Linked DNA regions of Homo sapiens: region 1 is linked to region 2. Evidence: fine-mapped expression QTL. A gene starts in region 2. The other region holds a variant in brackets. All regions are shown on one strand. Distances are between the middles of the regions. Region 1 has its middle 5.9 kb from the start of MHENCR. Region 2 holds the start of TPD52L2 (TPD52 like 2).

Region 1 (4,381 bases), 230 kb before region 2:
TGCTGGGATTATAGGCATGAGCCACTGCAACCGGCTGAAAGATGGTAATTTTAAAGTAGAGAAACTGGGTTGGCTGGGCATGGTGGCTTATGCCTGTAAGCTCAGCACTTTGGAAGTCCAAGGCAAGAGGATCGCTTGAGTCCAGGAGTTTGAGACCAGCCTGGACAATATAGCAAGACCCCATCTCCGCAAAAGCTAAAAAGTTAGCCAGGTGTGGCGGCACATGCCTGTAGTCCCAGCTACTCAGGAGGCTGACGTGGGAGGATCACTTGAGACCAGGAGGTCAAGGCTGAAGTGAGCTGTTATTGTGCCACTGCACTCAGCCTGGGCAACAGAGCGAGAGTCTGTCTCCAAAGGTAAAAAAAGGTCCAGGCACAGTGGCTCACACCTGTAATCTCAGCACTTTGGGAGGCCGAGGCGGGCAGATTCGTTGAGGTCAGGAGTTCAAAACGAGCCTGGCTAAATGGTGAAACCCCGTCTCTACTAAAAATACAAAAAAATTAGCCAGGCATGGTGACGGGCGCCTGTAATCTCAGCTACTTGGGAGACTGAGGCAGGAGAATCATGTAAACCCAGGAGGCTGAGGTTGCAGCGAGCCAAGATCATGCCACTGCACTTCAGCCTGGGCGACAGAGCAAGACTGTCTCAAAACAAAACAAAAGAATCTTGAGTCCTGAGTTCCTCTAAGGGAAATTCCAGGCACCTCGCCACCCTTGACAGGCAAAGGAACAATCTGATGAGGAAGAAGATAGAAACAGCTTAAACAATAGTCTCCCGGCCGGGGGCAGTGGCTCACGCCTGTAATCTGAGCACTTTGGGAGGCCGAGGCGGGTGGATCACAAGGTCAAGAGATCAAGACCATCCTGGCTAACATGGTGAAACCCCGTCTCTACTAAAAATACAAAAAATTAGCCGGGCGTGGTGGTGGGTGCCTGTAGTCCCAGCTACTCGGGAGGCTGAGGCAGGAGAATGGCGTGAACCCAGGAGGCGGAGCTTTCAGTGAGCTGATATCGCGCCTCTGCACTCCAGCCTGGGCGACAGAGCCTCGAGACTCCATCTCAAAAAAAAAAAAAAATTAGCTGGGTGTGGTGGCTCACACCTGTAATCCCAGCTACGTGGCAGGCTGAGGCAGGAGAATCGCTTGAACCTGGGAGGCGGAGGTTGTAGGGAGCTGAGATCGCACCACTGCACTCCAGCCTGGGCAACAGAGCGAGACTCTGTCTCAAAGAAAAAAAAAAAAAACAAAAAAACAATAGTCTCCCAAGTAAGTCAGAGTCACAAGGTGTTTTGATTCCCTGTGGAAACTAAAATATAACAGCTTAACATATGTTCTTGAGTTATTTTTCAGAAACTTGGACATCCACCAGGTGGAAAATGCTGAGCTAGGAACAGTGGCTATAATTTCAGCCTTTTGAGAGGCCAAGGTGGAAGGATCACTTGAGGCCAGGAGTTAGAGACCAGCCTGGCCAACATGGTGAAACCCCGTCTCTAGTAAAAATACAAATATTAGCTGGGCATGGTGGTGCAACCTGAAATCCCAGCTACTTGGGAGACCTAGCTGGGAGGATCGCTTGAACCTGGTAGGAGGAGTTTGCAGTGAGCTGAAATTGTGCCACTGCACTCTAGCCTGGGCAACAGAGTGAGACTCTGTCTCAAAAAATAAATAAATAAAAAGAGAAAAAAGTGTTGCCTGCAGGCCGGGCACAGTGGCTCACGCCTGTAATCCCAACACTTTGGGAGGCCGAGATGGGCAGATCACCTGAGGTCAGGAGTGCAAGAACAGCCTGGCCAACATGGTGAAACCCCATCTCTACTAAAAATACAAAAGTTAGCTGGGTGTGTACATGTAGTCTCAGCTACTTGGGAAGCTGAGGCAGGAGAATCTCTTCAACCGGGGAGGTGGAGGTTGCGATGAGCTGAGATCACGCCACCACACTCCATCCAGCCTGGGTGACAGAGTGAGACTCCATCTCAAAGCAAAAAAAGAAACATAGGTGGGACCCTTGGTGTGTCCTTAGGGCATGATG[G/T]TTGAGGTATACTGCTGGTCCTGTCATGTAAAAGAAAACGAGCCGACTCTGTGTCTACTGGAGAAAGCACTGCATATATCAGCCACAGTCAATACCTCGCTTCTGCAGGGACGGTGGCTGCCAGAGTGGGAGGCTTTGGTAGCACCCATGTCGTGGAATCACAATGTTGTCGATAGCTCTGGGGTCTTGTACAAAATGCCAGATCCTCCCATTTGGTTTCCTTATGGGAAGGATCGCAGTACTATAATACATGGGCTTGTGCAAGGGATCATTATACCCTTTTCTCTTTTTTTGCTTTTCTTTGAGACAGAGTTTCACTCTCGTCACCCAGGCTGGAGTGCAATGGCGCGATCTTGGCTCACTGCAACCTCCACCTCCTGGGTTCAAGTGATTTTCCTGGCTCAGCCTTCTGAGTAGCTGGGATTACACATGCCCGCCACCAGGCCTGACTTATTTTTGTATTTTTAGTAGAGACAGGGTTTCACCAAGTTGGTCAGGCTGGTCTTGAACTCCTGACCTCAGGTGATCCACCCACCTCGGCCTCCCAAAGTGTTGGGATTTCAGGCATAAGCCACCAGGCCCAGCCTTTCTTTCTTTTTAAAATTAATCTTTGTTTAAAAATACTCTCATTTTTTATTTAATTGTAGCACTCCTAGATCCCGAAAGCAGATACACTCTTGTTATGGGTCTGATTCTTTTCATTGCTTCACGCCTTAGAGGATATTGTCCAATACTGGATAAAAGTTTACTCAGGTCTACTTCCACTTTAACGGGGATGGCTGAATATCTCTTCCACTTGGCTGTTCGTTTATAATGAACTGACAAACATACAAATTTTCTTGAGTTCTGTGAGACATTCTAGTAAATCATCTAACCTGAAGAGCAGGTTGTGAGAACCCCTGATTTAGAAAGCCCAGTGGTCATAAATATAAGTGGCTCTGGACTGGCTCCCGGGGTCTGAAGTGTGGGCAGTCGGTTAGGATTGAGCCCTTGTAATTTGTAGGATCTGACACACCCTCCAGGAAGGCAGTGTCAGAATTTACCTGTATTATATTGGACACCCAGTTAGCGGTTGGAGAATTGGTTGCTGGTATAGAAAAATACCAAATATTTTATGTCAGGGGAGTGAAAGAAAAAACAAAAACCCGGCCGGGCGCGGTGGCTCACGCCTGTCATCCCAGCACTTTGGGAGGCCGAGACGGGCGGATCACGAGGTCAGGAGATCGAGACCATCCTGGCTAACACGGTGAAACCCCATCTCTACTAAAAATACAAAAATTAGCCGGGCGTGGTGGCGCGCGCCTGTAGTCCCAGCTACTCGGGAGGCTGAGGCAGGAGAATGGCGTGAACCCGGGAGGCGGAGCTTGCAGTGAGCCCAGATCGCGCCACCGCACTCCAGCCTGGGCGACAGAGCGAGCTCCGTCTCAAAAAAAAAAAAAAAAAAAAAACCCATACACTTTAAGGAAAGCAACTGACAGCATTTGTTACCAGTGATAAAATTTGAGCTTTGAAGTAAGAATAACAATTTTGCCATTGTGCCCGGGCCAAGAAAAAAAAAAGAATTTTGCCATTGTGAAAGGCTTCCCAGTACTTTCTGATGAGCTTGACGGTGATATTAACAAATAACTTTTTTTTTTTTTTTTTGAGATGGGGTCTTGCTCTGTCACCCAGGCTGGAGTGCAGTGGTTCAATCTCAGCTCACTGCAACCTCCGCCTCCCAGGTTCAAGCGATTCTCCTGCCTCAACGTCCCAAGTCGCTGGACTACAGGTGTGCGCCACCACGTCCAGATAATTTTTGTATTTTTAGTAGAGATGGGGTTTCACCATGTTGCCCAGACTGGTCTCAAACTCGTGACCTCAGGCGACCCGCCCACCTCGGCCTCCCAAAGGTGGGAGGCCTTGCTGGGATTAGAGGTATGAGCCGCTGCACCTGGCCTCTTGTCCTTGTGTTTTGCAGTGATGCAATGACCATGTCTTACATTTGCAACCAGAAAAAAAGGTTAGTGTAACAATGTTTATCCTGTTTTTCCCAGAGTAGACATTATGAAGATTAAAAAAATTTGAAAGTGTTTTGAATATAATAAACTATGCTATACACACAACATTTTGGTGACTAGAAATACAAGTTTATTGTTTGTTGTTTGTTGAGACAGGGCCCTGCTCTGTCTCCCAGGCTGGGTGGCACAATCATGGCTCACTACAGTCTTGAACTCCTGGGCTTAAGCGATCCTCCCACCTCAGCCTCCAGAGTAGCTGGGACTGCAAACGAGCACCACCACGCCTGGCTAATATTTGTATTTTTTGTAGAGATGGGGTTTCACCATGTTGCCCAGACTGGTCTCAAACTCCTGGGC
Region 2 (4,381 bases):
TTCAGTTGCCCTGGCGGCTGTAACCTATATGCCCCAGTGGGGGATCACGCACTTGAACTCCTGGCCTTCTTGGTTCACCTCCCCATACCGCCAACCATTGCAGGGGGCCGGCGCCGACGCGGGGCGGGGCGGGGGGGGGCGCGCGGGGTGCTCCTGATCTGCTGTCTGGGGGAGGGTAGGCAGAACACGGGGACTTGGTGCTCTCCTTCCTTCACAGGGGCGTTCTGACCGTCCTCCCATTCTTCCTAGCTCTGTCCCCTCCTTTCTCTCTTCCTCCTACAAATACTTTTGGCTGCCCCCACCCAGCTCCTAAGGGAATGAAAGGTTAACCTGACCCGGTTTATGGCAATACTGTGTGATGGGTGCCTTGATCACCACAAAAGGATGATGGGAACGGGGCTGTGGGGTCCCAGGGAGGAGCCCTTCACCTGGCCTGGGTTACAGGATGGCTCCTGGGAAGACAATGCCAGCTGTGCGCTGAAAGTCTGTGCAAGCTGCTCCCGTGAAAAGGAGGACATTGGCATGGCAGGGCTGTGGGCAGGTCTTAGTGGCTGGACATTCCCAGGAGTTAGCACTGGCTATCATTCTGTAGGGCTCCCTCCCACCTCCAAACTCCTGGCTTCTACACCAGGGCATTCACAGACAGATTGCAGACTCACATGGTGGCATGTGAGGCTACAGATACACTTGCACAGGCCAGAGGATACTACTGCGTGTCCCCTGGAGCCAGGCCTGGGCTGGACTTTGTTCCTGGCTTAGGGATGCAACACAGAATGGGACAAGGCCTCTGCTCACAATGGTCTGTAATGTCACATCTCTGTGGTCTGCCCTGAACTGCCTGAAGCAGGGACTATTGTCCCTACATGTCCCTAGTCCCCGGGCTGGCCTGGTTGGGTTGAGCAAGAATCTCTGGAAAGAATGAAAGGCAGCAAATGGAGAAAACATTACTGAGAGCACGAGAGCAGGCTAAGGCCGTGGTGGTAAGGGACTCGGGCCTGTGCAAGAGTACCAGGAAGACACCTGTGGGAGGAGGTGGCCGGGTGAAGGAAGGGGCAGTGGGAGGAGCTTCCATGCCTAGGGACCAGTACCACCCCAGGCTGGAAGCCCAGAGTGGAGTCCTAGGACATCAGATCCTAAAGGGCTTGAATACCGTTTAAGGCTTTTCTTCCGGGAGCAAGTAGGAGCCAAAGAAGGGAAGTTGCGGGACTTGTTTTCGTGGGGCCAGTTGCCTGGTGGTTACGCGCCTCTCCTCTGAAGTCAGGCATCCTGTTCCAGAGTATCCTGGTTGCGCTTCAACTTGCGGAGTGACCTGGGGCAAGTGACTTTAACCTCAGCTTCCTCATCTGTGGAGTGGGGAGGGCGCAGCGCTGGTCGCCCTGAACAGGAAGTGAGACAACCTCGGGGTGCACACGCGCAGGCCCGAGCCGCAGGGTCCACGCCCGAGGCGAGGCGGCAGCGGCGCCTGCAGGGCGAGGGGACGAATCGCGATCTTTTTCAGAGTAACCCGCGTACAATAAAAAGTCCCCATGAAAAGGACAAACTAGCCAGGCGTGAGGGGCGGTGGCTCACGCCTGTAATCCCAGCACTTTAGGAGGCCGAGGCGGGTGGATCACCTAAGGTCAGGAGTTCTAGACCAGCCTGGCCAAGGTGGCGAAACCCCCGTCTCTACTACAAATACGAAAATTAGCCGGACGTGTTGGCGCGCGCCTGTAATTCCAGCTACTCGGGAGGCTGAGGCTGGAGAATCGCTTGAACCCGGAGGGCAGAGATTGGAGTGAGCTGAGATCGCGCCATGGCACTCCAGCCTGGGCAACAAGAGTGAAACTCCGTCTCAAAAACAAACAAAAAAGGACCAACTAAAAAAAGAATATAAATACAATAAATAACAGGACTTACGGGGGCAGGCTGACCCCTAAAGTAAGGGGTCGGGCTGGAAAGGATCTCAAGGGGTCAGAGTTTGAGCCGCCGAGGCGCGCGAGCCCCAGCACTCCTAGGCAGCTGCATCCGCCCCGGAAGATCCCCTGGGGCCCTGCGCTGGCTTTCCACAGCGCCATGTTGGACGGTCCTCCCACTTCCCACCTTCCCAGTCCTCCCGCTACTCTGACCGTTCTACCTGTGATTCTCGCTGGTGGAGTCAACCTGGAATGGATTCCCGCCGAACCACGCCTCCCTTTCCTGGTTCGCCCGCAGTTTCGGCCTATCAGGTTGAGTCGGGTAAACCAGGACGGGCCAAGCGGCACTCTCATTGGATATCACTGGTGGGGGCGGGAAGAAGGCGGAGCACGTGCCCGGGCGGAAGTAGCCGTCGCATCGCGGATTACGAAACGCCGCGGAGCTGAGGCAGTTCCGCTGGCTAGTGTGTACGCGGCGAGCTTCTCCCGGCGCCGCCCGCTCGGCTCCCATAGCGCCCGCGACAGCGGTCCGGACGCCGCCCGAACATGGACTCCGCCGGCCAAGGTACCTGCCGGGCCCGGCCCCTTCGCCGCAGATGGGCCCAGGCTGCCCGTTGTTCTCCGTCTCCCGGGGTCGCGTCTGCGACTCTCTGTCCTCTCGGTCTCGGTTCACCCACCCCGCGGCCCCTCTTCAGCTCCCGGGGCCACTGACCTCGAAGCTTATGATGGTCGTGGTGTGTTTTTTGCCCGCGGCCCAGACCGCTTCCTGGGCTCTCTCCAGCCGCCCTCCTGGTCTCCCCTGGGACCGTTCCGAGGTGTGGTTCCCTGGCGCCCGCCGTTGCTCCCGTAGTTTGGGTTCTGTCGCTCCCAGCAGGTCTCGCTTATGCCGCCCACCCCGTGCCCTGCTCTTGCTTGCTCTGCCACCCCCCGGTCCCTGCGCGGGGCCCTCGGGTTCACGCTGTCTGGCCCTGGACCCAGTCCGAGGTGTTGAGGGCGGCTCCCGAGCAGAGAAGGGGTCTTCGCGTTCAGCAGAGCTCCCCTTGGGCAGCAACTCTGCTCGGAGCTCAGCCTGCTTAGGGGTTGCCTCATGGAGAGGGGGTGGAGTGAGTCAGGGGCACACCCAGCATACCAGGCCTGTTTCCAGAACAGTCTCCCCAGAGCAGTATGAGATGGCCACTGAGGGGCGTGGAGCGAGCCCAGGAGATTAAAATCTTGAGAAGATGATAAAAGTCTGCCTTGCATTTTGGGGCTCTAGAGAGGGATGCTAAATTTCTTTCTTTCTTTCTTTCTTTCTTTATTTTTTTGAGACGGAGTCTTGCTCTGACGCCAGGCTGGAGTGCAGTGGCGCGATCTCAGCTCATTGCAACCTCGACCTCCCGGGTTCAAGCGATTCTGCTGCCTCAGCCTCCTGAGTAGCTGGGACTACAGGCACGCGCCACCAGGCCCAGCTAATTTTTGTATTTTTAGTAGAGGCAGGGTTTCACCATGTTGCCCAGGATGGTCTCGATCTCTTGACCTTGTGATCCGCCCGCCTCAGCCTCCCAAAGTGCTGGGATTACAGGCGTGAGCCACTGTGCCCGGCTACATATTAAGCTTTATAATTCCTAGGTGCTGCATTATTCTGGAGGGTGTTTTTTGTTTGTTTGTTTTTGTTTTTTTGAGATGGAGTCTCACTCTGTCGCCCAGGCTGGAGCGCAGTGGCTAGATCTCGGCTCACTGCAAGCTCCGCCTCCCGGGTTCACTGCCATTCTCCTGCTTCAGCCTCCCAACTAGCTGGGACTACAGGCGCCCGCCATCATGCCCGGCTAATTTTTTGTATCTTTAGTAGAGACGGGGTTTCACTGTTAGCCATGACGGTCTTGATACCCTGACCTCGTGATCTGCTTACCTCGGCCTCCCAAAGTGCTGGGATTACAGGCGTGAGCCACCGCGCCTGGCCTTTTTTTTTTTTTTTTTTAATTTTTTTTTTGGGGACAGCGTCTCCCTCTGTCTCCCAGGCTGGAGTGCAGTGGTGCAATCATAGCTTACTGCAATCTTCAACTCCTGGGCTCAAGCGATCTTCCTGCGTCAGCCTCCCAGGTAGCTGGGACTATAAGACTACAGGCGCACCATGCCAGGTTAATTGGTCTTTCTACTTTTTTTTTTTTTTTTGAGACGGATTTTCGCTCTTGTTGCCCACGCTGCAGTACAATGGCGCGATCATGGCTTCCCGCAACCTCTGCCTTCTGGGTTCAAGCGATTCTCCTGCCTCAGCCTCCCGTGTAGCTGGCATTACAGGCGTGCGCCACCATGCCCGGCTAATTTTGTATTTTTAGTAGAGATGGAGGTTTCTCCATGTTGGTCAAGCTGGTCTCGAACTTCTGACCTCAGGTGATCTGCCCGCCTTGGCCTCCAAAAGTGCTGGGATTACAGGTGTGAGCCATTGTGCCCAGCCTCATTTGTCTTTTTTTAAATAGAACAGAAAGGCTGGGCTCGGTGGCTTACGCCTG

The links. PIP is the estimated chance that this variant, and not a neighbour inherited with it, causes the effect. A credible set is the group of variants that fine-mapping cannot tell apart.
Region 1: its variant is the best candidate, but not a certain one, in a credible set for the expression of TPD52L2 in whole blood (TOPMed, PIP 0.53).

What each region holds. Positions count from the first base shown.
Region 1 is chr20:63,630,945-63,635,325 of GRCh38, forward strand. No RefSeq gene overlaps it. Among named protein-coding and RNA genes, the nearest start is that of MHENCR, 5.9 kb to the left of the region's middle. RefSeq lists an enhancer at 621-790 and a cis regulatory region at 706. The variant G/T (reference allele first, on the strand shown) is at 2,028.
Region 2 is chr20:63,862,928-63,867,308 of GRCh38, forward strand. It overlaps TPD52L2 (TPD52 like 2), which reads left to right and starts at 2,343. Exons shown (of 7, transcript NM_003288.4): 1 at 2,343-2,457. The coding sequence starts at 2,439. It overlaps ABHD16B-AS1 (ABHD16B antisense RNA 1), which reads right to left and starts at 2,146. Exons shown (of 2, transcript NR_165314.1): 1 at 1,897-2,146; 2 at 1-1,343. It overlaps ABHD16B (abhydrolase domain containing 16B), which reads left to right. Exons shown (of 1, transcript NM_080622.4): 1 at 1-61. The coding sequence ends at 23. RefSeq lists enhancers at 1,071-1,300, 1,394-2,593, 1,633-2,353, 3,075-3,794 and a silencer at 1,761-1,810.